Homo sapiens: one gene and its partners. The protein of the gene in region 7 purifies or fractionates together with the protein of the main gene of each other region. This does not show direct contact. Each region holds a gene or a part of one and is shown on either strand. Other genes may lie near its edges. The genes, in order: MTFR1L, KIAA0232, ZNF496, BLTP3B, TOMM70, PRDM1 and FBXO10.

What was found.
Region 1: the proteins of FBXO10 (region 7) and MTFR1L purify together in Homo sapiens (affinity purification with mass spectrometry; one large-scale study listed by BioGRID and IntAct). This does not show direct contact.
Region 2: the proteins of FBXO10 (region 7) and KIAA0232 purify together in Homo sapiens (affinity purification with mass spectrometry; one large-scale study listed by BioGRID and IntAct). This does not show direct contact.
Region 3: the proteins of FBXO10 (region 7) and ZNF496 purify together in Homo sapiens (affinity purification with mass spectrometry; one large-scale study listed by BioGRID and IntAct). This does not show direct contact.
Region 4: the proteins of FBXO10 (region 7) and BLTP3B purify together in Homo sapiens (affinity purification with mass spectrometry; one large-scale study listed by BioGRID and IntAct). This does not show direct contact.
Region 5: the proteins of FBXO10 (region 7) and TOMM70 purify together in Homo sapiens (affinity purification with western blotting; one study listed by BioGRID). This does not show direct contact.
Region 6: the proteins of FBXO10 (region 7) and PRDM1 purify together in Homo sapiens (co-immunoprecipitation; one study listed by IntAct). This does not show direct contact.

Annotation. Positions count from the first base shown.
Region 1 is NC_000001.11:25,822,954-25,826,453, forward strand, and holds part of MTFR1L (mitochondrial fission regulator 1-like), read left to right. Parts: exon of another isoform or gene 1-65; 5' UTR 66-151; coding exon 152-175; exon of another isoform or gene 176-653; intron 654-690; coding exon 691-795; intron 796-3,348; coding exon 3,349-3,458; intron 3,459-3,500. UniProt on the Homo sapiens protein: Mitochondrial protein required for adaptation of miochondrial dynamics to metabolic changes. Regulates mitochondrial morphology at steady state and mediates AMPK-dependent stress-induced mitochondrial fragmentation via the control of OPA1 levels.
Region 2 is NC_000004.12:6,862,727-6,866,226, forward strand, and holds part of KIAA0232 (uncharacterized protein KIAA0232), read left to right. Parts: coding exon 1-1,457; intron 1,458-3,465; coding exon of another isoform or gene 3,466-3,500.
Region 3 is NC_000001.11:247,325,368-247,328,867, reverse strand, and holds part of ZNF496 (zinc finger protein 496), read left to right. Parts: intron 1-1; coding exon 2-185; intron 186-3,500. UniProt on the Homo sapiens protein: DNA-binding transcription factor that can both act as an activator and a repressor.
Region 4 is NC_000012.12:100,140,075-100,144,151, forward strand, and holds the start of BLTP3B (bridge-like lipid transfer protein family member 3B), read right to left. Parts: upstream 2,801-4,077; 5' UTR 2,562-2,800; coding exon 2,518-2,561; intron 1,692-2,517; exon of another isoform or gene 1,597-1,691; intron 1-1,596. UniProt on the Homo sapiens protein: Tube-forming lipid transport protein which mediates the transfer of lipids between membranes at organelle contact sites. Required for retrograde traffic of vesicle clusters in the early endocytic pathway to the Golgi complex.
Region 5 is NC_000003.12:100,387,590-100,391,089, forward strand, and holds part of TOMM70 (mitochondrial import receptor subunit TOM70), read right to left. Parts: intron 1-3,500. UniProt on the Homo sapiens protein: Acts as a receptor of the preprotein translocase complex of the outer mitochondrial membrane (TOM complex). Recognizes and mediates the translocation of mitochondrial preproteins from the cytosol into the mitochondria in a chaperone dependent manner.
Region 6 is NC_000006.12:106,096,336-106,099,835, reverse strand, and holds part of PRDM1 (PR domain zinc finger protein 1), read right to left. Parts: intron 1,748-3,500; exon of another isoform or gene 1,623-1,747; intron 896-1,622; exon of another isoform or gene 751-895; coding exon of another isoform or gene 742-750; intron 537-741; coding exon 284-536; intron 1-283. UniProt on the Homo sapiens protein: Transcription factor that mediates a transcriptional program in various innate and adaptive immune tissue-resident lymphocyte T cell types such as tissue-resident memory T (Trm), natural killer (trNK) and natural killer T (NKT) cells and negatively regulates gene expression of proteins that promote the egress of tissue-resident T-cell populations from non-lymphoid organs.
Region 7 is NC_000009.12:37,510,392-37,513,886, forward strand, and holds the end of FBXO10 (F-box only protein 10), read right to left. Parts: intron 2,331-3,495; coding exon 2,156-2,330; 3' UTR 501-2,155; downstream 1-500. UniProt on the Homo sapiens protein: Substrate-recognition component of the SCF (SKP1-CUL1-F-box protein)-type E3 ubiquitin ligase complex. Mediates the ubiquitination and degradation of BCL2, an antiapoptotic protein, thereby playing a role in apoptosis by controlling the stability of BCL2.

The DNA of each region.
Region 1 (3,500 bases), on a different chromosome or scaffold from region 7:
TGGTGACCATTAAATCCCCACTGTGGGGGGTTGTTTCACAAGAGGGAAATCTGGTGCTCCTCCAGATGGCCTGATATGAAGGAGTCACGCCTCCCGCCTCCCGGAGCTGCCCAGTGGCTGCCTTGTCCTTCAAGTGCAGGAGCTGGTTCAAATGTCAGGAATGGAAGCCACTGTGGTAAGGGGCATTCCCAGGGCAGGGGTATGGTGGGGAAGGTTGGGTGCTGGGCCTGCTGAAGTACTGTAAAAGGTTCTGAGACTCTCCAGTTGAGCACTCCTTTCTCCAGAGGCCTGGAATTGGAGCAAGGCCACCGTTTCACTCCCTCCCCCTAAGAAGAACCAACTATGATCCTGGGGCACTTCAGGAGTCAGTGTATGTCTGCCTTTCTGTACAGAGGACGGGAAGGAAAGCCTGGATAATCTCTACACTCAGCTACTTCCTCTCCCCTTCCCTGACCCTCCCAACATTGACTGCCTTAGCAGCAGCAGGTATTCCCTTGGGTGGCTGGCCAGGGTGTAGGCTGGCAACTGGGGAACCTGCCCTCACTATAATTGAGAGTTGACTTGCCCCTAGAGAGTGCCCTGTCCCTAGGTTTGTGGAATTCAGTCTCCACAAACCTAGAGAGGAGAGGACAAGGACAGTAGTTGGATTCATTCTCTGGGGTTGTAGCTGTCTCCGTCTCTTTGCTCCAGACCATCCCAATCTGGCAAAACAAGCCACATGGGGCTGCTCGAAGTGTAGTAAGAAGAATTGGGACCAACCTACCCTTGAAGCCGTGTGCCCGGGCGTCCTTTGAGGTGAGTATGTTGGAAGGGCAGGAGAGTAGAGGCTCAGACAGTGCTGCTTCTGTGCCCCAAACCCCTTGGTACTGCCCAAGTAGGTTGTTTCCTGGTCACTTTTCATTCTGTTATGAAATATTTGTTAAATGCTTATAAGATATCCTGGTCACTGTGTCCTCCTGAGTGCATACAAACCTGTGACCACAAGGAACCTGACAGGTCCCCCACATGGGACACTGACTATTGTGATTTTTGAGTTGAACTCTGCTTTTCTTCACCAGCCCTAAGAATTGACCATGTAGCCAGTATTTTTATTTTATTATTTTTTGAGATGAGGTCTCCCTATGTTGCCCAGGCTAGGTCTTAAACTCCTGGGCTCAAGCAGTCCTCCTGCCTCAGCCTCCTATGTAGCTGGGATTACAGGCACAAGCCACCATGCCCAGCTCCACTATTTTTAGTGTTTCTCTGAGGCCATAATTCCTCAGCCTTCTCTTTTTGGCCAATCTGGGCATCCTTTACTGGGGTGCTTTGGTCTTACCTCTGTGTCTAGGGATCCTTTAGCACCCACTCAGCAGCAGAGATTCCTACCTGGCCCAGGTCTCTTGAGACCCCTTCTGTGGTAGAAAGCTAAGTAGCATTTATTAGTCCCAGCTGCCTCCCTCTAGGAACTAAATGGTTAAGCACCAGCCCCAAACTATATGGTTCAGATGTGTGCATTTGGAGAGCTGGGATACAAAAGAAATACTTGTGCTTTCTACCCACACAGAGGAGATAGAAATATGTGCATGAAAGGATGTGGGCCCAGGTAGAAACAGAAATGAAGGAGCCAAATCTGTATAAAAGATGCTAAGAAGCAGAGTCTGTAGGAACTGGATCTGGAATTAGAAGAGGTGTCAGGGTTGGTATTAGGGTCAGGAATGGAGTTGGAAGTGTCGCAGGGGTAGGGGGCAGGAAAAGCTGTCCCAGTATTCAGATTGCCAGCTATCCAGAATTGTCTAAAGATCCTGGGCAGGAACTGGTCCTAACTTGCCTCAGAAGCATCAGAAAAAAAAAAGGGAGACAGCTAGGGAGTGTGGCTCACTGCATAGAGGCCGTCCCCACACTTGGCTATACCCTCTTCAGTTCTTTGGCCAGATGCTGGGCAGAGACAATCAAGGGCACAGGCTCTCACAGAGCAGGAATGTATGTGAGCAGTATTGGTAATACTAGATAACATTTACTGAGCACATACTATGTGTCAGGCACTGTGCTGTACTTTATATTTGTTTACTCATTTAATTGCCAAGAGCAAAGGAGCATTCAGGGCTAATCAGGAAAACAAATGGAGGCTTCCCCCAAATGCCCTATTTTAGCACTAGTTCCTGGGTCACTGGAAGTTCTTCTCTGTGTGACCTTGGAGTATCACTTAACTCCTGTGAGTCCCAGGTTTCCTATCTAAATGCAGGAGCGATCAATCCTGGATCCATCTACCATACCAAATAATTTGTAGCAGAAACAGTTGAATCTTACTTGTGTGTAAATATGCATTTATTATTATTATTAAATTACCTTAAATATTATTTAAGGGACTCTTACCAATTTATTTTGAAAATTTAAGCATATGAAAATATTAAAATTATGAAAAGTAAAAGGAAAATAAATTACCTATAATTACATAGTAATAATACAATAACTATTAATGTCTTAGTGTAGTCCTCTTTTTCTAGATGGATGTTTTTTACTTTGTTGTAATCACAGTCAACATGACTGAATCCTAATTTTTCACTTTACTCAACATCTCTAGGTTGAGGAGCTATTTTAAGAAATCCTATTATGGTTCCTTTTGTATAATCATTTATTTTTATTTAAATCTAAATATATTCAAATTTTCAGGTTTGTTTAAAACAGCATTGCTGTAACAATGTAGATCTCAATTAGCTATACAGGATTATAAAAAGCTAGTCAGGAAAAATTTCCTATTGCTGTAACAGGTTGTGGATGACCTTGTACTTGTATTTTCACCAGAGGGCACAGTGGTTTTAGACAGTTGCCATCTCTACTAAAAGGTGACTCAGGCCTTTTCCACTGAAGACACAGAACTGTTTGTAATCCCATAGACTCTCATGTGTCTTGCCTGTTTTTGTTTTTGAATGTGGCTCTGTTGTCCACGCTAGAGTACAGTGGTGCAATCTCAGCTCACTGCAACCTCTGCCTCCCAGGTTCAAGCCATCTTCCCACCTCAGTCTCCTGAATAGCTGGGACTACAGGCGTATACCACCATACCCAGATAATTTTTGTATTTTTTGGTAGAGGCAGGGTTTTGCCATGTTGCCCAGGCTGATCTCAAACTCTTGGTCTCAAGCATTCTGCCTGCCTCGGCCTCCCAAATGCTGGGATTACAGGTGTGAGCCACCATGCCTGACTGTCATCTGGCCTCTGTTCAATGTTTTCGACCAGGAACCTTCTTCTGCCCCCTCTAGGAAGCCTTCCTGACACCCAGTGCCGGATTAGGTACCCCTCCTGTGTATTCTGCAGTTTCTGATTGGCTCATCATGGCATCTGTAAATGTTGATGACTTTTGCTTCTCCATAGACCCTGCCCAACATCTCTGACCTGTGTTTGAGAGATGTGCCCCCAGTCCCTACCCTGGCTGACATCGCCTGGATTGCTGCGGATGAAGAGGAGACATATGCCCGGGTCAGGTAGTTGAGGCAGTAGCTGGTCTGCTAAGGAATGGAGAACTT
Region 2 (3,500 bases), on a different chromosome or scaffold from region 7:
TCAAAAAAACATCTAAACTAGAATCCGTCTGTGGTATTCAGCTAGAACAAAAAACAGAAAACAAAAATTTTGAAACTACACAAGTATGTAATGAAAGTCCACATGGAGATGGCTACAGCTCAGGGGTTATTAAAGACATTTGGACAAAGATGGCAGACACAAATTCTGTGGCTACAGTAGAAATAGAAAGAACTGATGCTGAGTTGTTTTCGGCAGATGTAAATAACTACTGCTGCTGTCTAGATGCTGAAGCTGAACTGGAGACCCTTCAGGAGCCTGATAAGGCTGTGCGGAGGTCAGAGTACCATCTGTGGGAGGGACAGAAAGAGAGCCTGGAGAAAAGAGCATTTGCTTCTAGTGAGCTATCAAACGTGGATGGTGGTGATTATACAACACCCTCTAAACCCTGGGATGTAGCCCAAGATAAAGAAAACACATTCATTCTTGGAGGAGTTTATGGAGAACTCAAAACCTTCAATAGTGATGGGGAGTGGGCAGTCGTACCACCTAGTCACACAAAAGGAAGTCTGTTACAGTGTGCAGCTTCTGATGTTGTGACGATAGCTGGTACAGATGTCTTTATGACCCCAGGAAACAGTTTTGCTCCTGGGCACAGGCAGTTATGGAAACCCTTCGTGTCATTTGAACAGAATGATCAGCCGAAGAGTGGGGAAAATGGGTTAAATAAGGGATTTTCTTTTATCTTCCATGAAGACTTACTAGGAGCTTGTGGCAACTTTCAAGTCGAAGATCCTGGACTTGAATACTCATTTTCTTCCTTTGACTTAAGCAATCCATTTTCACAAGTTCTTCATGTAGAATGCTCATTTGAACCTGAAGGGATTGCATCTTTCAGCCCCAGTTTTAAACCGAAATCAATCCTCTGTTCTGATTCAGACAGTGAAGTGTTTCACCCCAGGATATGTGGTGTTGACAGAACACAATACAGGGCTATTCGGATCTCTCCTCGGACTCACTTTCGCCCAATTTCTGCATCCGAACTGTCCCCAGGAGGAGGAAGCGAGTCAGAATTTGAATCTGAGAAAGATGAAGCAAATATTCCCATTCCTTCTCAAGTTGATATATTTGAAGATCCGCAGGCAGATCTCAAACCTTTGGAAGAAGATGCAGAGAAAGAAGGCCATTACTATGGAAAATCAGAGCTTGAGTCTGGAAAATTCCTTCCCAGGTTAAAAAAATCTGGGATGGAAAAGAGTGCTCAGACATCACTGGATTCCCAGGAGGAATCAACTGGGATTCTTTCAGTAGGAAAGCAAAATCAGTGTTTGGAATGTAGCATGAATGAATCCCTGGAAATAGATTTAGAAAGCTCAGAAGCAAATTGTAAAATAATGGCACAATGCGAGGAAGAAATTAATAATTTTTGTGGTTGCAAAGCAGGTTGTCAGTTTCCTGCTTATGAAGATAATCCAGTTTCTTCGGGACAGCTGGAAGAGGTATGTGTCTGCGTGTTGGTATTTGACAAAAGGATTTGATCAGAGTTTAACCCAAGAACAGACATGCCAGTCAATGAAAGATAGGGTTAAATTATTGGGAAATTAGCTTAAATGTCTTAAAACTTAAATTGTTCTAATTTTACATGTAAGGACTTAAAATGGATTTGATATTTATGAATTTGAACTAGACAGTAGAGTTTTTCTGGAGAGAAAAAGCTTTTAAAAATCACAGGATGTAAGATTCCTATGTGTTGTCTTAAGATGCATGTTATTGGCCGGGTGCAGTGGCTCACGCCTGTAATCCCAGCACTTTGGGAGGCCGAAGTGGGTAGATCATTTGAGGTCAGGAGTTCAAGACCAGCTTGGCCAACATGGTGAGACCCCGTCTCTACTAAAAATACAAAAATTACCCAGGCGTGGTGGCAGGCACCTGTAATCCCAGCTCCTTGGGAGGCTGAGGCAGGAGAATCACTTGAACCCGAGAGGCAAAGGTTGCAGTGAGCCGAGATCGTGTTCTGTACTCCAGCCTGGGTGACAGGGTGAGACTCCATCTCAAAAAAAAAAAAAAAAAAAAAATACATGTATTATGCTTAAAGCAAAAACCTAACATGAAAGTGTTCTAACATTCAAAGTTGATGAATCAGGAAGTGGCTGCTATTAAAGTGTAGCAAACCTGTCTAACTGACTCTTAGAAGTTGATCACTTTATCAAAACTTGTGTTTTACATATAAAACAAATTATATCTCTATGGAGTTCTCAAAAATACATTGTGGTACATGTAGAAATTCACCCACAGCCCAAATGCAACAAAATTTCTTCTACAGAACCTATACAGATGTATCTTGCTTTATACAAAGTACATATTCCAGAAGCTGTGTGGATTATATGTTAAGGCTATGGAATGAGGATCACATTAAGTTGTGTTAATGAGAGTCATTGTACCTCTCCACTGTATGCCCAAGAAATGGCTTAAGGTTAAACTGATTGTACAAGAAATAACACTTAAGACAATAAACTGTTTCACAAAAAAAGCACAGCAGTCTGCCCATTTTTCCACTGTTTTCGATATGTGAGTGCCTAGCCTTTCTCCAGAAATAGTTTATTTAATTTTGTTTTTGTTTTTGTTTTGTTTTGGGGACAGAGTCTCGCTCTGTCGCCCAGGCTTGAGTGCAGTGGTGCGATCTCAGCTCACTGCAACCTCCACCTCCCAGGTTCAAGTGATTCTCCTGCCTCAGCCTCCCAAGTAGCTGGGATTAAAGGCATGCGCCACCACGCCCGGCTAATTATTTGTATTTTTAGTAGAGACGGGGTTTTACCAGGTTGGCCAGGCTGGTCTTGAACTCCTAACTTCAAGTGATCCACCTGCCTTGGCCTCCCAAAGTGTTGGGATTACAGGCGTGAGCCACCGCGTCCGGCCCAGCTTATTGAAAAAAAGAGATGGAGGTGTTTAGAAGCCATGCCACCTGTGGCCAGAGAGCAGATGAGTGTTGCACTTCCTCCCAACTGTCCTGCACACCCTACCCACCATTGCACATCCAAATCCTACCCATACCATGAGACTTATTTCATATACCACCTCCTTCACTGACACTTTCCCTAATTCCCTCTCTCCCCTGCTCCAGCCCCACTCTGCATCAGAATTAATTTTGCCCCTCTCTTAATTTTCATGCACTTTATGCCTCTTTTTGATTGCATTTTTCATTTCTCATGAGTTATTTATATCCTGGACTATAAGCTCCTTGTGGCTGTGGACCATGCCTTACTTATTTGTCGCATCAGAGTGCCCAGGTGTGGGACTGCTTGCCTGTGATTCTAGGAAGCCCCCAGGCGACTTGAGAGGCACTGCTCTAATCAGCTACCTAGAGACCCGTAGAGGATGAATTTAATCCCATTGAAACACTGCTAAGAAAAAACCCAATAATATTGTTAGCCTTTATCTGTTTGTTTATTGCCCCATTTTTCATCCTTAAATATTCCTTTATGTACTTTGTATTTCACCTGGTTCCAGATTGGGAAGAAAGAAAAAGAGGAAAGAAGCAAGAT
Region 3 (3,500 bases), on a different chromosome or scaffold from region 7:
GCTCAAGCACTGTGAAGACCCTGTGGTGATTGATGATGGGGACAGCCCTCTGGACCAGGAGCAGGAGCAGCTGCCGGTAGAGCCCCACAGCGACCTTGCAAAGAACCAGGATGCCCAGCCCATAACCCTGGCACAGTGCCTGGGGCTCCCAAGCAGACCACCAAGCCAGCTCAGCGGGGACCCAGGTATGCAGCCCAGGGGAGTGTAGCAGGGGTGATCTGGGGAAGTGCACACCCCATACTGTGCACTGGGTGTGGTTTTTGTTAAGCTGATGGCTTTTACATCAGCAGTGTTCTCGTGTCCCCGAGGTGCTGTGAGCTGTTGTCAGGGTCTGAGTCCCTTCCTAGAGCAATTAAATGAGAACCTCATCAGGATGTTTGTCCTCTTCATGGTTCTAGAGCCTCTCAGAGCTAACGCTTCTGTAGGTGGGTGTCACTGAGGTGGTGCCCTCTCATCTCTTCGAGGGTGCATCTCTGCAGGATTTGTCAGTTTGATGACAGCTGGGGACTGCCAGTGTACAGCTGGGGCCTGCTGCATGACTGGAGCATGGCCATTTCTTGTCTCTTGGAACCTCTGTTTCCTTGGCTAAACAACTCCTGTTTACAGGAGTATTGTGATGCTGCGAAGAGATGTAGAAATACTTAGGAGGACACAGGGTGGTGTCTAGTGTGTGGGGCCAGAACATCAGCTACACATAGTTTGAGTATGTATATGAAGTACATGGTAGCTACAGGAAAGTAGTTTTTTCATCAGATAAACTTAGATTTGAATCTTCTGGTTATGACCTGAGGCATGTTTCTAAACTCTGAAAGCCTCAGTTTCTTCCTCTGTCCAGCAGAGATAGTAATTACCTTTTTTGGGGTTTTTGGACAATTAAATGAGATACAACCTACAAAAGGTTGAACACAAGGCCTGAGGTGCCCAAAACTTTAAGTACATATCATGGGAAACCAGCGCCCTTGGGTTGAAGGAAGTCTGGCCCGTGGGTTCCTCTGGGTGGACTTGCCACGGTGCTTTATATGTACAGTGGAAAGAGAGTGTCTGGGGGGCCAGGGGGGCTTTCTTATGACTCTGGGTGGACTTGCCATAGTGCTCTATAGGTACAATGGAAAGAGAGTGTCTGGGGGGCCAGGGGAGACTTTCTTATGACTTGCAGAAGTTGTGTTTGGCATTATGATAAGCTTTTCAGTAATAAAACCAAAATGCCTATTAAATTTCTGTGTGTGGAAAAACTATATTGACTTCTGTACAAATCACATAAACTCTTCAGCCTTTTCTTGCTTATAAATCAAGTTTGGTGTGTTGTTGGCTGCCATAACAAAGTACCACAGACTGGATGCCTTATGTAACAGAAATGTATTCTCTCACAGTTCAGGAGGCTGGAAGTCTGAAGTCAATGTATCAGCAGCCTTGGGTTCTTCTGAAGCCTCTCTCCTTGGCTTGTAGACATGCCTAATGTTAACACTAAGAGAAGTTTGCAGATAGACATTTAGAAGGAGCTAGGGGTTGGGCGCGGTGGCTCACGCCTGTAATCCCAGCACTTTGGGAGGCCAAGGCGGGCGGATCACCTGAGGTCAGGAGTTCGAGACCAGCCTGGCCAAGATGGTGAAACCCCATCGCTACTAAAAATACAAAATTAGTTGTGTGTGGTGGTGGGTGCCTATAATTCCAGCTTTTCGGGAGGCTGAGGCAGGAGAATCACTTGAACCTGGGAGGCGGAGATTGCAGTGAGCTGAGATCACGCCATTGCATTCCAGCCTGGGTAAAAACAGTAAAACTCCATCTCAAAACAAAACAAAAAAAAAGGAGCTAGGAGGGGAAGTCTCTTATGCCACTGGCTCTCTTTGGGACCCGTAAAAACCCATGAATATCCGGCCCTGAAAGCTGACAACAAGCTTTGTGCCAGGACTCTTGATGACGGGCGGTTTTCTTTCAGGGAAAGGAAGAGGAAGATGTTTACACTAAGAGAAGTTTGCAGAGCAGGTGTAACAGACACCTTCTCTCTCTGGGTCTCTTTATGTGGTCTTTCCTTTGTGTGTGTCTGTGTCTTAATCTCCTCTTCTTATAAGTACACCAGTCCTATTGGATTAGGGCCCACCCATATGACCTGATTTTATCTTAATGACCTCTTTAAAGACCCTATCTCCAAATACTCAGTCGCATTCTGAGGTACCTAAGGGTTAGGGCTTCAACATAGGAATTTGAGAGGGCCATAACTTAGCCTGTAACAACAGGTATAAGGGAAGCAGCCAGTCGCCCACATAATGCACGTGCAAGTAGCTTGGGTTATGCAGGAAGTGGGGGGCTGTGAGAGGCCTTGTAGTGGGGTCTGGGAAGGCATGCAGGTGGAGAGGAAGAAGTTTCAGGAACTACAGTAGCCTGTGCAGTTGCTTCTTGATAAAGTTCTGAGATAAGCCAGCAACCACAGATGGGCTTTAGGAAAACAGGGCCAGCTCTCCCATTTCCATGAGCAATAATCAATAGGCAAAGTAGGTATGATGAGAGTTAGCAATCAGGAAAACCTTAACTATTGGGACAGTTCATCATTGGAATGCACTACCTATCAGAGCTGTATAGTTCCTCATCTTGAAGATCTTCCCCAAAAGCTAGATTTTGTGTAGGGTCTGCAACTCTCCGAAGTGATTCTTGAAAGGGTCCATGTATTCATTTATCGGGGCCAAAAGTAGGGTGGGACTACATATTCATATATATATATATATATGTGTGTATATATATATATGTATGTATATATATGTGTGTGTATATATATGTGTGTGTATATATGTGTGTGTGTGTGTATATATGTGTGTGTGTGTGTATATATATATATGCGTGTGTATATATATATATACATATGTCTCAGCCTCCCAAAGTGTTGGGATTACAGGCGTGAGCCACTGTGCCCGGCCAACATGATTTTAAACTTGGAGAAGGGAGGGCTAGGGATGGGAAGGAGTTAGCCAGGTTACCCAGTTAGGGGGCATCTCCATTCATATATATATGAATATCTGGGATAGCTACATATCCCAGAAGGTGGCAGGTGTGAGGAAGCAGAACTAAAACACCACCTCCTAGCCAGGCATGGTGGCTCATGCCTATAGTTCCAGCTACTCAGGGGGCTGAAGCAGGAGGATTGCTTGAGGCCAGGAGTTTGAGACCAGCCTGGGCAACATAGCGAGAACCCACCTCTAAAAAATAAAACACCCCCTCTGGGAGACATCGGTCAAAGAGTACAAAGTTTCCGTTAGGTAAGATGAATAAATTCTGGAGATCTATGGTACAGCATGGTGAGGTTGATGAAAAATAATGCATCTTATACTTGAAAATTGCTAAGAAAGTAAATAAGAAATGTTCTCGTCACAAAAATATATGAGGTATAGATTTGTTAATTAGCTTAATTTAATCATTTCACAATGTATAGTTATCACATTGTACAGTTTTCGTATACAAAATACATACAATTTTTGTCAATTATAGCTTAATAAAACTGGGAGGTAAAA
Region 4 (4,077 bases), on a different chromosome or scaffold from region 7:
TATTCTATAAAATTAAACTTGAACCAGGTAATTTCAAAAGTTCATTCCTTCCTGAGTAACTATAATTTATCACAACACCTGCCTTCTTTTGTCAATTACGAGCTGCCTTTAGATTTCTGAATAACTATTTTTCTTAGGAGATGACAGCAATTAGCAGTAAGATTAACTTATTAACCAAAAATAAAAATTTGATACTCTTTAGTCACCTGAGTTAAGGATGTTTTGAAATATGAAATAACTGAAAACTCAAGTGTCCCAAAAACTCATCTCTGAAAAAAAAAAAAATCCTCATCACACTATTTATCACACAGCTATTACAAATCATACAGATTTAGAAACTAACCCTAAGGGCCAGGCACGGTGGCTCACACCTGTAATCCCAGCACTTTGGGAGGCCAAGGCAGGCGGATCACCTGAGGTTGGGAGTTTGAGACCAGCCTAACCACCATGGAAAAACCCTGTCTCTACTAAAAATACAAAATTAGCCAGGCGTGGTGGCGCATGCCTGTAATCCCAGCTACTCGGGAGGCTGAGGCAGGAGAACTGATTGAAGCCAGGAGGCAGAGGCTGCCGTGAGCCGAGATCATGCCATTGCACTCCAGTCTGGGAAACAGAGTGAGACTCTGTCTCAAAAAAAAAAAAAAAAAAAAAAAAAATATATATATATATATATATATATAAAATAAAATAAAAACTAGCCCTAAAGACTCAATTTTCAATATATGGGTGTTTTCTATCTCATGCAGTAAGCCATTACATCTTTGTTCTTAATTTTTTTTATTATACTTTGGTATGCATGCTCTTAATTTTTAAGAGCCCCTCTCAAATGGAGTTCTATAAAAGAATTAAACTCTAATGCACTATCTGTTGATTGAATTAACTTTTCTTCCAAGCATCTAGAGTGGTACTAGCTATGCAGCATCATCCTTGGACGAGTGAGAAAGTAGGCATTCAAATCATTTTCTGCAGATCTGTATTTTCTTGTGGAGCTGGGTATGAGAAAGGCGGGAGGACATAAATTAAAAATAGATAAAACCTTCCAAAATAAGATAGTTCAAGATTGGGCCATATATATAATTTTAAAAGAAACTTTTCAATGAGTGATAACATTAAGAAATACATATTCATGCAGGGCGTGGGGGCTCACACCTGTAATCCCAGCACTCTGGGAGGCCGAGGACCGCGGATCACCTGAGGTTGGGAGTTCAAGACCAGCCTGGCCTGGTGAAACCCAGTCTCTACTAAAAAAATACTACATATATACACATATATATGTGTAGTGTATACACATATATATGTAGTACACATATATATGTATGTGTATATATGTGTATATATGTATATGTATATATGTACATATGTATATATATGTACACACACACACACACGCTGCTATACTTTGCTACTTTTAAGAAAAGTGCTATATCTTATTCAGTATTATAAGTGAGGAAAATATTTGCTGAATCACAGAAGTAGAATTCTGTTCCCAATATATAACCTGTGGTATAAGACAATCTGGGGAATCAAGAATTATGTTTACTATACAAGTCTATAATCATACCCGTGTCTTCCCAAAATTAGTTAAAATTAACTTACAAATCGAACAGAAAGGGATCCTAACCAAGGGCTTTGAGTTCGCTGGTAACAACTTGGAACAAGAGCCTACATTTAGCCTGTGTCTTGAGACAAACACGGAGAAGCCAAGAGCAGTAACAAACTGCCAGCCTTACTGAGTCATGTTTCTGACTAAAACCGCGTTATGAAATGGAGAGAATGACATGTCTTGGGTTTAATCACCACAGATGTTAACTCCCTGAATTTTAGAGTTGCAGAGGAAAAAGAGCAAAAACCAAAAAAAAAAAATGTTCAGTAATAATGATGTGGGTCTCATAGGACTCCAGAAAGAACCTGCCAAAGCTGCGAACTCTGCTTATTTACCTAAAACAAATCCTAACTGTGCAAACAGGCACACCCTCTGATGCCACAGAGCGGGAACGCCAAGGTGGGAGGAATTCAGAACAATCACAAGGTTAACGTTCCACTGAGAACACAGCCTCCACTGAGCGTCCACACTGCGCCAGAAGCCCTCGGTTAACGGAACCGCTCTGCTCCAAGGGGAAGGAGCACCGAACTCGAGTTAGAGCCCAGCACATTAACCAGGCACTTGGGTGACGCCAGGCCACCTCCAGCCTCCGCTCAGTACCGCACAGAGCCGAGCCGGGACGCCCCCAGACGCCGCGCCGGGAGCGATCCCAGCCCGCCGCGCTCCGCACTCCGGGCTCCTCCGCGCGCCCACCCTGGGAGAAGACGCGTCAGGGGCCGATTCGTGAGGCCAGCCCCCGGCGCCGCCGGCGACAAGAGATCCGGGGCCGCGACCTCTGCCCCGGCCAGAGCGGGGAAGTCCGAAGGTCGCCTCCCGCACAGCCGCCAGGCGCCGCCGCCCCCGAAGCCGCAGGCTGACTCCAGTGCGGGCTGGGGTGGAGGCCGACTGGCGCCGACACCGAGGCGCTCACTGACCTGGAGAGGTGCTTCAAGATTTGTTTCTTGATGATCCCGGCCATGGTACCGAGGCTGGAGACGCCGCGGTCTCGTCCTGTTGCTCACTGCCTCCTCTCTTCGTGGCCGTCTCCTCTCTGTCCCGGCTAGCCCGGCCGGCGGAGAGGCGCTGATCGCTCACGACCGGGAGAGACCCAAGGCCCCGGCCAAGGCCACAGCCGCCGCCGAGAACCCGGAGCATCACGCTCAGGCCGCCACGGCCGCCGCGGGCGCCATCTTGGCTGCAGCATCACCTAAGAGACTCGGTGGAGGGCGGGGGCGGGGCGGCTCCAGGCGGGGCCGGCACGAGGCGGGGCGGGGCCAACGCCGGCTCTGGGCGGGCTCTGGGCGGGCTCTGGCTGGGCTCTGGCTGGGCTCTGGGCGGGGGCGGGAGGTTTGTGGCATTGGCGCCAGGGTTCTTAGCCCTCGCGACACAGGGCCCTTGACTCTCAATACACCATCCTTCTTGGCCTTAATCCTCCCTCCTTCCCTCTGCTGGTGTTCCCGCCTCCATCGCTGACCCGTCGCTGATTTTTACTTCCACGTCCTACTTCCCTTATTCATTTCCTCAGAATGTTTTTTATTTTTTTGCTTGTTTGTTTTTTTTTTTGAGACAAGTCTTGCTCTGTCACACAGGCTGGAGTCCAGTGGTACGATCTCGGCTCATTGCAACCTCCACCTCCAGGGTTCAAGCGATTCTCCTGCTTCAGCCTCCTGAGTAGCTGGGATTACAGGTGCGCACCACCACGGCCGGCTAATTTTTGTATTATTAGAGACGAGGTTTCACCATATTGGCCAGTAGGTCTCGAACTTCTCACCTCGTGATCCACCCTCCTAGCCTCCCAAAGTGCTGACATTACAGGCGTGAGCCACTGCACCCGGCCTCCTTAGAATGTTTTAAGAATCGGCCATTAACTCCTGTGCTTGCTTTGCTCTCTTGACCTACTCACCTTTCTTCATATTCTTCCTTAGGTTTTTGTTTTTGGTGTTTTTTTTTTTTCTTTTGTTAAGGTGTCCTGCCTTTCCCTTACCTAAATGTGGCAATTTAATGTTTCCTTTGGTTATTGCTATTCTAAGGGAAGTAAAGGTTGACAATGGTTCCTAGTAGTCTAGGACCTAGGAATTAGAAGGTGTATAATTCAAGTCCTGGCTCTGGTATTTTCTAGCTGTGTTATCCTGGGGAAAATAATTTCTTTACTATTAGTTTCATTTTAATCATCTGTGAAATAGATTAATCATCAGCCTTACCCACTTCACTAGGTTGAACCTAAAGGTGTAAATATCATATGAAAAGTTCTGTAAGGAAGGAAGGAAATTGTTGAACTAGGGAAAACTGTTACAATTCTACACCTCCACCCCACCCAATCCCAAACAGAGCTAACATTTTCAGAGATTAAAATGACGACTTCTGTCATCCCAGCACTTTGGGAGGCCGAGGCAGGCAGATCACTTGAGGTCAGGAGTTCAAGACCAGCCTGACCAACATGGTGAAACTCTGTGTCTACAAAAAAAAAATACAAAAATTAGCTGGGCATAGTGGCG
Region 5 (3,500 bases), on a different chromosome or scaffold from region 7:
ACAGACACAGACACACACACACACACACACACACACACACACACACGTATATACTTTTTTTTTTTTTCTTGAGACAGGGTCTGTCGCCCAGGCTGGAGTGCAGTGGCACAATCTTGGCTTGCTGCAACCTCCACCTCCTAGGTTCAAGTGATTCTCCTGCCTCAGCCTCCCGAGTAGCTAGGGCTACCAGCGTGCACTACCACATCTGGCTAATTTTTTAATTTTTAGTAGAGATGGGGTTTTGCCATGTTGCCCAGGCTGGAGTCTTATATGTTTTTAATTTCAAAAACACTCAGACTTTTTCAAAAAGGCTGCAGTACTTTAAAGTTTTTAAAGGATTTAAAGTGCGCAAAGGATTTCTAGGAAGCTCTAAGTATCTAAGATCAGAATATTATATAGCTACTTTAAGCTAGCTAGTGTCAACCAGAATGTATATTTTAAAACTGATGTGGGAGGATGAAAGGAACCAAGACAAGCACATATAAATTAATAGATGAACTTAAAATCTTCCATTTGTCAGTAGACTTAATTATGTTCCAAAAGCTTTGAGACATAAATTTAATTTCAAGGATACATATGTTTCAGGACTATGAATATGTGCCAGGACTAACAGAGACTGCTACAGGACTGACAGAGAAACACCCACAAAACACCCACAATAAAGCAAAACTAGGAATCCCTTATGTAGTTGTGGGCTCTGGGGGGCAATCGTCAGGGTGATTGCTAGAAAACTTGCATTTGAGACAACCTCAACAATCCTCCCACTCCACTGGAGGAAGCAGAAATCACATTAGAGTAGGGCTGTGTCATTCAGGAGTGAGGATCTTCTATATGAGAGACAAGTGGCCAGGTACCATGGCACACACCTATCGTTTCAGATACTTGGGATGCTGAGGCAGAACTGCTTGAGCCCAGGAGTTTGAGATTAGCCTGGACAACATATTGAGACATTGAGACCAGACTCTCTTAAAAGAGACAAATGACAGTGACAGGGCATACCATACCTTGCCTCTGTTTTTTAAGAGACCACACAATCGAGAATTGCTAACAAAAGGGAAAAACAACCCATAAAAAAAGAGGCCCCCAACTCAAATATAAAAGTAGTATCTGAGAAAGCAGGATATACCAAGCAAACAAAAAATTTAGTTTCAAAAAAATGAGAGGCTATCTTCCCATCATTAAAAGAGGTTGCTTTTAAAGAGCACTAATTAGAAATCTTAAAAATGAAAAAAGATTATTACAATTAATTCAGCAGATTGGCTGTATATTAAAGAAGCGAGCTGAGGAGCAAATTAACAAGTAGAGAATGGGGGAAACCTGACAGAATGCCATGGAAACAGAGGACAGGGAGGTGGGAAGTTTGGAGAAATTAAATGACATGAAGTATAAATCCAGAAGTTCCATCATTTGCCTATGTGGAGTTCTAAAAGGAAAGGCATAGAAAAAAAAAATCTAAGGAATTGGAGAAATTCTCGGAGTTGAAGAAAAATGACATGCATTTTTAGACACATCATGGTGAAATTTCACAACAAAAATCCTGAAAGTATTTAAAAAGAAAAACAATCCAGTGCCAGACTGTCACCAACATTTGGTACTAAAAACCAATTAAGTAACAATTTCAAAGTTCTAAAGCAAGATTATTTTGTAACTAAAGTCTTATACCTAGCTAAACTAGCATTTGAGGTTGAACACAAGAACAGAAATAGAAATGTACAGCTTCCTTACCACTAAAAATAAACCCCCAAATAGGGAAATGACCAATACAACAAAAAGCAGAAAGGAAGGAAAAATAAGAAACAAAAAAGCAGAGTAAATATGGCAGTAATTGCTAAACATGTAAATAGTAAAAATAAATGTGAGTAGTTTAGAGCCCTGCATTGAAAGACTTTCAAATTGTTTAAAACCAAAACTAACTACCTGCTGCCTATAAGGCATGATGTAAAACCAAATGACATACTAAGGCCAAACAATTTTTTTTTAAAAAAGGAATGTAAAAAGTTGTGGAAGGTGAATACTAAAAAATAAAAATTAAGGTAATATAGACAAAATACCATTCAAAAGCATCACATGATGTCCAGATAGTTTTACTGATAAAAGGTTCAATCTGTAAAAAAGGCACAATAATCATGAATCTTCATTTATCTAATAAAGGTTTAAAATAAACTCAATTGGCTGGGTGCAGTGGCTCACGCCTGTAATCCCAGCACTTTGGGAGGCTGAGGCGGGTGGATTACCTCAGGTCAGGAGTTCGAGACCAGCCTGGCCAACGTGGTGAAACCCTGTCTCTACAAAAATAGAAAAATTAGCCAGGATGGTGGCAGGCACCTGTAGTCCCAGCTACTCAGGAGGCTAAGGCAGAAGAATCACCTGAACTCAGGAGGCGGAGGTTGCAGTGAGCCGAGATCACACCACTGCACTCCAGCCTGGGAGACAGAGTGTGACTCCATCTAAAAAAAAAGAAACAAAGGAAACAAACTCAAGTATCATTGTCTCATGCACCACTGGCTCCAAGACAAAAGGTCATTAAAGTTAAAGACAAACAGAATCATCAGGATAATTACATCTTTTTCTTTTTGCCAAGCAAGTATAATTGAATTTATTTTAGTTGATATGATTCTACTATACAATAACCAACAGTGTAGTCTTTATCCTGAAGGACCATACTGTAGACTAGTGTAGGAAACAAACAACCGTCAATCTCGCAAAAGAACTATTACTGATAGAAACACTAAAATCCCATTATGAAAATGTACAGTTATACACCACATAACAATGTTTTAGTCAATAACAGACTGAATATACAATGGTGGTCCCATAAGATTATCATGGAGCTGAAAAATTCCTATTGCCTAGTGATGTCACAGCCATTGTAATGCACTACTCATGTATCTGTGGTGCTGCCGGTATAAACAAACCTACTATGCTGTTAGATGTATAAAAGTATAGCATATATTGGGGCCGGGTGCAGTGGCTCATGCCTGTAATCCCAGCACTTTGGGAGGCCAAGGCAGTAGATCATTTGAGATCAGGAGTTTGAAACCAGCCTGACCAACACGGTGAAACCCCATGTCCACTAAAAATACAAAACAATTAGCCAGGTGTGGTGGCGAGCGCCTGTAATCCCAGCTACTCAGAAGGCTGAGTCAGGAGAATCACGCGAACCTGGGAGGCAGAGGTTGTAGTGAGCCAAGATTGCGCCACTGCACTCCAGCCTGGGAAACAGAGGGAGACTGCATCCCAAAAGAAACAAAAACAAAAACAAAAAACAGGCTGAGTGCGGCGGCTCACGCTTGTAATTCCAGCACTTTGGGAGGCTGAGGCGGGTGGATCATGAGGTCAGGAGATCAAGACCATCCTGGCTAACACGGTGAAACCCCGTCTCTACTAAAAATACAAAAAAAATTAGCCAGGTGTGGTGGTGGGCGCCTGTAGTCCCAGCTACTCAGGAGGCTGAGGCAGGAGAATGGTGTGAACCTGGGAGGCGGCGCTTGCAGTGAGCC
Region 6 (3,500 bases), on a different chromosome or scaffold from region 7:
GCTTTTGGATAAATTAGAATTGGACATATATTTCTTCCTGTAACATCCTGAATTCAAAACTCAAGGTAGCTCCTCATATATATATATACTTTTAAATGATCAAGTTTCCTAATAGTTAATAGGGACTCAAAAAATGTTTTTCCTCTTCCTAGTCCCTAGCTTAAGCCACCTACTTCATCCAACACATGACAAAGCCGTATAATTAAACAACATGTTATTAGTTCAAAGGGGCAGAACCGACATTACTGGCATTTTTTATTTTTTTGTTCTGTAATCCACTTACTGAGATTCATCATTGTCAGCTCTCCGGGATAAGGGTAGTGAAGCCTTTCTGCAAAGTCCCGACAATACCACACAAGAAGTTCCTGGTTGGCAGGGATGGGCTTAATGGTGTAGAAGTAGATGTTCATCCCGTTCTGACACGCAGCCAGGTTTTGCTCCCGGGGAGAGTGTGCTGGATTCACATAGCGCATCCAGTTGCTTTTCTCTTCATTAAAGCCGTCAATGAAGTGGTGAAGCTCCCCTCTGGAATAGATCTGTCCAAAAGAGAAGACAGGCATGTAAAAGGAAGTCAGACCCAAAGCTCCCCAGCACCTCTCAGAATAAACACAGCCGGTACCGTGTGTGATTTCTGATCCCCTACTGCCTAGTTAGAAAAAGAATCCAATCAGTTTAGCCAGAATAGTCTTGAATCAGCAGAAATCAGGGCGGAAACAGGTAAGGCACACTTTTGTCAGTTACCTTTTCCATTTCAGTTTTATCGTCTTTTCATGTTCGGGAAAATAACAGAAAAATGAAACACAAATGTTCATTTAAGGAGCTGCCTCAAACCGATTAACCCACCACAGAGTACTACTTTTGCTACTGCAGTGAATGGCAAATGGGCGATGCTACTGACTTCAGTTCCGATTATGCTGACTTTTAGTGCTTTGAGTCACTGGGTAGAAGACCAAGCCGGCTGACGACGTCAAACTGAGTCTTAGCTTTTTCTATGGCCTCTGTACTCGCCGTTTCCTACACCCCCGCCCAAGGCTTCAACTATGCAAACATCCTCCACCCCCAACCCTCCAAGTCCTAAAGTAACACTTGTTCATATGAATACTTGGAACCTTGCCTTTTTGTGGAAACACTGGGTGGGGCAAAGGTGAACTTCACCTGCCATAACAAAGCGAACACTCGGGCAGCAGCCCGAATTTGACAGTCTATTACTGAGAAGTCACTTTTCCTCTTGATAAACATGTCCAGACTTGCACTTTCCTTTCAATGCAAAGGAGGGAAGGGAACCCCTTATCTGGGAGGAGGCTGGCTAAAACACCACACACAGAGCCATAGGCGTGTGTTTTTGGAAAAAGAACAGGAAGAAAGTATGTTGTTCCTTAAAGGCAACGCAGAATGAAGAATTTGAAGTTTGTCCTAGAGTAATACTACTTCTGGATAACAGATGCACTCAGGCTACTTGGCAAAGAGGCAGAGGAAGAAGAAAAATTAAAACGTACACTCTTACTGAAACTATAAACACACTCCTTATCCTTCCACACAAAGTTTTCTCTCTTCCCCTCTTTTTAGGAGGTACCACCTTTACTTTAGACTTTAAGAAATTTCCTTATACAATCAGTCAATACCTAGTGTGATCTGCGACTTGCAGTCTCCAAGCAGCAGTAAGGCACTGTTCGTAGCAGGAATTTTGTGCTCACCGGACAGCAGGTTATTGCTTTTCCTTACTCACGTACCGACTATGCTAGTCTACAGATAGTTTCTGTATTTCGCTCAAACGTTATCAGAAATAAAAAGGAACTCTGTCCCTTTAACACAGGCGGTAAACACCAGAATCACTTTCTTTTAAGAGTAACTTCCTGTAAATTGTGAAGGGGGAAATACATGTGGCTTCATCAAAGCAGCTTGTGAGAGCTTTTGCGGTGTGTTTTGTTAAGAGAAAATGGAACAAGGCTGGGTGAATTCTGCTATCAAGAGGGGTTTTCAAGTTTGTTTACTCTGATGTGCAAACTTCCAGGAACATGGGGTTCCATCGCTCTTGTACTCTTCGCTGGTGCGGAAACTGCTTTCTAAAGCTACGGGTATGTTGATTCCAGTTAGCCTTCCTCGGACTGCAATTTACTGTATCCTCATTTAAAAACAGCAATGTCGGTGCCATGAAGTCACTCACACAGAATAAAATAACGCATATGTAAAATGAACACCGTTTCCTACCACCTTCCTGCACTTCCATATATTATCTAGAAGATTAAAATGCGCTGATTCATAGTACAGTTACAAGAAATGTCACTGGTTTCTCAACTTGAACATCCCTTCTTTGGCAGTGTAATTTGCATGAAACTTTTTCTTTCCTCACAACAGATGTTCATATTCCTGCCAGCAAAAACGAGATGTTCTACAATATCCTTTGCATGTGAAAGACTGATTCAAATAAATCCTCCCAAGGAAAGCCTTTCAGTTACTTACAGTGAATCTTTAAATGAAACAGGGAACTGGACAGTGAGGGGGAGATTCTTAGGTACTTCTTGCCTTTTCTCAAAATAATCACACATTAATGAGACTTATGCTGGATTGTCTTAATTCAGACCTTTAACTCCAAGAACTATGCACCTTTGTGGCTCACTTCTGAGAAGACGTTATTGACAATAAAGGCAAAAATGCACTCATGGTTCCACCATTGTAAGTCAGGTGATTAATATATTTTAAGGAGGAATAATTATTAAATAAAAATTGTGAGCACATGATTCTTAGTGAATCTGTAACTACCCTCTTTTGCTTGGGAAATAGTAAGATAAATTTCTAAAAATGAAAAACTTCCTGGATTAAAAATATTGTTTCTTAGGAATAGCTTCTTGTCCGAACGATATAATCGTTCTAGGCAAAAATACCAGCTAAAGCAAGCATAACACAATTTTTGTTATCATGCAGCTGTTTCTTTTTAAAGAATTCAAATAATGTACATTTCATGTAAGTATGCACAAAAAAACGCTTACTAAATTCTTTATCTTCTGAGGAAACTAAATATCCCTGAGACATCTATGGGAAGAAGGAAAGCAATCTGACTTTTTTCTGTTCACTGCTAATCCAGTGTTTTATTCAAGGATTCCATCTAATTGGTTCACCTCTGGGGGCCTTTCTAACCCTAATATAGCAAAGGAAATTGTACTGGCTAGATCTTTTGGTTGGATGCTATAGGAAAGCTTATCATCTTGCATATGACTGTTAAGCATTTTCCTTATGCTATGAGATAATTAACCTATTGTCAAATGGAATCATTTTACCATGCACATGTATTTAAATAGGACTAGTTCTGTGGTCCTCCATTCCCCTCAACCCATCTTCCAGCTATCCTTCCTTAATGGCATTTACTTATAAGGTAATTCATTTGTCATTCCTGGCTGGGCGCGGTGGCTCTTGCCTGTAATTCCAGCACTTTGGGAGGCCAAGGTGGGCGGATCACGAGGTCCAGAGATCGAGACCATCATGGCCAACATAGTGGAACCCCG
Region 7 (3,495 bases):
AGTACTAGTTTATGAATTTTTACAAATGTACACTGATAGCATAAGATGTTAATAACACAGAAACTCGGGGGTGGCAAGGGTGATATGGGAACTCTAGTAATCATCTGTCTGCTCAATTTTTCTGCATATTTAAAACTTCTAAAAATTAAGTAGATTTAAAGAAAAAAGTACTAACTTCTCAGGTGACATATGGATATAGCAAAAATTCTAAGATGCTGAGTAAGTGAAGTTGGGGAAGTGTGCTCCGGGGTCTGAGGTCCCTAAGCTGACAGTCCAGTGATCCATGGGGACGGCCTGTTTCTGTTGTCTTCACAGAGCAGGCAGGAGTGGAATTATAGCCCGATTGAGCCCTTCAGCCCTATATCTGGAACTGTCACAGGAACAAGCTGACCCAACAAGATGGCCCCAGGATTCTCCTGTCTCCTTCAGAGGAAACAGTGCTGGGCCTGGCCAGCTGGGAGCCCCAGTATATGCCCAGACTAAGGAAAGGCTTCCAAAAGTGCCTTTTTTAAAATATAGAACTTTATTTTGGTTACTGAGGTTTTTGTTACTGTTGGTTCACAGAAAAGTCATTTCTTAGAAAATAGTAACGGCAGCATTTTTTACAGCGACTCACATTGGGGCCACCAAACAAGTGCAAAGGACAGTGCCAGGGATAGAAGAGGCCAGTACTCTTGTGCCCAGTGTTCTCAGGGAGAACCCAGTGCTCCTGGCTCCCTCTACCCCCTCCCATCCCACCCAACAGAGCAGCACCTAGGGCCAATAGAACCAGCCACGCAGCCAAGTGCACGACAGTGACCCCAGCAGGCTGGTGAAGGCCCCACAGGAAAGGCCGAGTGGGAGGGGATTGTTCAGGTTGAGCTGGCCCTGCATCCAGCCCTCTTCCTCAGGCAGTGGGGTCTGACCTCACCTGGCTTTGGGACTTGGACATATTCACAGTACGGTTCAGTAAAGTCCTCTGGGAGCTGGCCTTCCTCTCCTCACTCAGGCCACTAATCCTACCCCAACCCCAGGCTGGATCTGGGGACACACAGTCAGAAGTGGCCCTACCTACGGGGAGCACACAGGTGAGTGGGGGGTCAGGCAATGGACCCAGATAGCTCCAGGACAAGGCAGAAAGTGCTCAGTACCCTGAGAGGGAGCAGAGAAAGGCCACTGAGGCCCAGAGGGGGAAAGAGGGCAGGGAGAGCTATGTGGAGGTGGCAGTGTCTCGGCTAAACCTTGAGGAACGAGGACACGGAGATGGGGGAGAAGGGCATGCCGGGAGGAGGAAAGAGCATGAGCCAAGGCACAGAGTGGGGAGGCTTGGGAGGGTCAGTAAAGACCAGCGCTCATCCATGAGAACACAGATGCGAACGAGAGGCCCAGGTACCCTCATCTGAACAGGCTGATGCTCAGGAGGGGCGGCTGGTGTGGGCACGCTCACATGGGGTTTGAATCCTTCTGCATTTGGGAGCTCTCTGGGGATGGAGTAGAGCCTTGTGCATCCCTGCCCACCCAGCCTAGCATCTGCCTGCACGCTGCAGCCCCACCTGTTTCAGCATGTCCCTCTTGTCATCCCTGGGGCAGCCTTTCCATGGGGTCTCCTGTTGCTCCCAGGTCCTTCCTTCCTCCCAGGTCCATGTCCAAGTCCTCAAGTCAACCAAACTCAACTCCTCCAGCCTCCAGAGACAGCTGGGAGGGTGTGGTGGGGTCCCTGGAGGGATTGAGAGGGAGACAGCTCTAGCAAAGGGGAAAATTCTGGAGCAGTTGTCTCTCTCCACCTCACTAGAATCACTTCCCGCCATCAGAAGTAAATCTGCTCTTTCCTGAGAAGAGTCTGGGTTTGGTGTGTGTAAAACACAGTTCCTTAGAACTCAGAGAAAATCCTGACCAAAAGCTTCAGCATTTGAGCTTCCCCCGCTCTTCACAATCTTTATAGACTTCGAGTGACTGGAAACCCACCAGCTTCTATCCCTTCTCCCTGAAAAACATTGCCCACTTTCTTCTTGCTATGGGCTGTGGAGCTGAAGTGTTCTGGAGGTACCGTGTTTTGGAGGCCCGGGACCCATTTGTTCGAGGGGGAGGGGGAGGGGCGGAGTCTTTTCAGGCAGTATTTCCACCTTAGCTCCTCTGAGCACCCATCCAGGCTTGGCCCTGAAGCAGGTCTGTGTCCTCACAGGATGGTGCAGAAGACACTGCGGTTGCTGTGGTAACCACCTTCCACCCGGGCTGTGATCCTCGTTGCCATGGCTGTCACCTTCTGCCCATTGTGGGCTGCCGAGGGACGTCTGAGAGAATTTTCAAGGTGGGGCCGTGCTGGTGGGTTCACCAGGCGCCACGTATCAGACCTGGAGGTGCAAAACGAAAGTCAGTGAACTTCTGAGGGGTGTGCAGTGCTGGCTGAATGCCCTGCACAGTCTTAACTTGGGTTCCAGATCGGTGGATCCAGGTGTTTAAATCTGGGTGTAGGTTTTATCTTCCAGTTTAGTGTTAGTCCAAAGAGGTGGGCTGTTGAGAAACTAAGGAGCAAAAGCCCTGCATTCCACGTCCAGCTCTGCCTTCAACTCTGCATGTAGCCTTGGACAAGGTCCCTCTGTAGGCCTCAATTTTCCCGCTTTGAGACACTCTGTTGCCCAGGCTGGGGTGCAGTGGCACGATCATGGCTCACTGCAGCCTCAACCTCCTGGGCTCAAGTGATCCTCCCACCTCAGCCTCCCAAAGTGCTGGGATTATAGGCTTGAGCCACTGCATCCAGCCGACTTCTCCACTTTAAATAAGGATCTGGATAAGATCATAGGGTGGTTGTTGTGAGACAGGGTCTCATTATGTTGCCCAAGCCGGTCTTAAACTCCTGGGCTCAAGTGATCCTCCTGCCTCAGCTTCCCAAGTAGCTGGGATTATAGGTGTGTGCCACGGTGCCAGCTTTTCCTCTTTCATTTCTTTTCAGCTCTATGACCACAAATGTTTATAGAAGCTTTATTCATAATCACCAAAAACTAGAAACTACCTAAATACGCTTCAGCTGATGAGTGAATAAACTGTGCAGTACACCCATACAGGGGAAGACTACTCAGCAATTGAAAGGAATGAACGCCTTACATGCAACACCATGAATGAATCTCCAGCATGTTAGGCTAAGTGAAAGAAGCCAGACTCAAAAGACTACATACTGCAGGATTTCTGGGTTTTTTTTGTTTTTACTTTTATTTTTTAATATATATATATATTTTTTCCGAGACGGAGTCTTGCTCTGTTACCCAGGCTGGAGTGCAGTAGTGTGATCTGGGTTCACTGCAACCTCTTCCTCCCAGGTTCGAGTGATCCTCCTGGCTCAGCCTCCCGAGTAGCTGGGACTACAGTTGCGTGCCATGATGCCCAGCTAATTTTTGTATTTTTAGTAGAGATGGGGTTTCACCATGTTGGCCAGGCTGGTCTCGAAATCCCGACCTCAGGTGATCCACCCACCTCGGCCTCCCAAAGTGCTGGGATTACAGGCGTGAGCCACCGCACCCG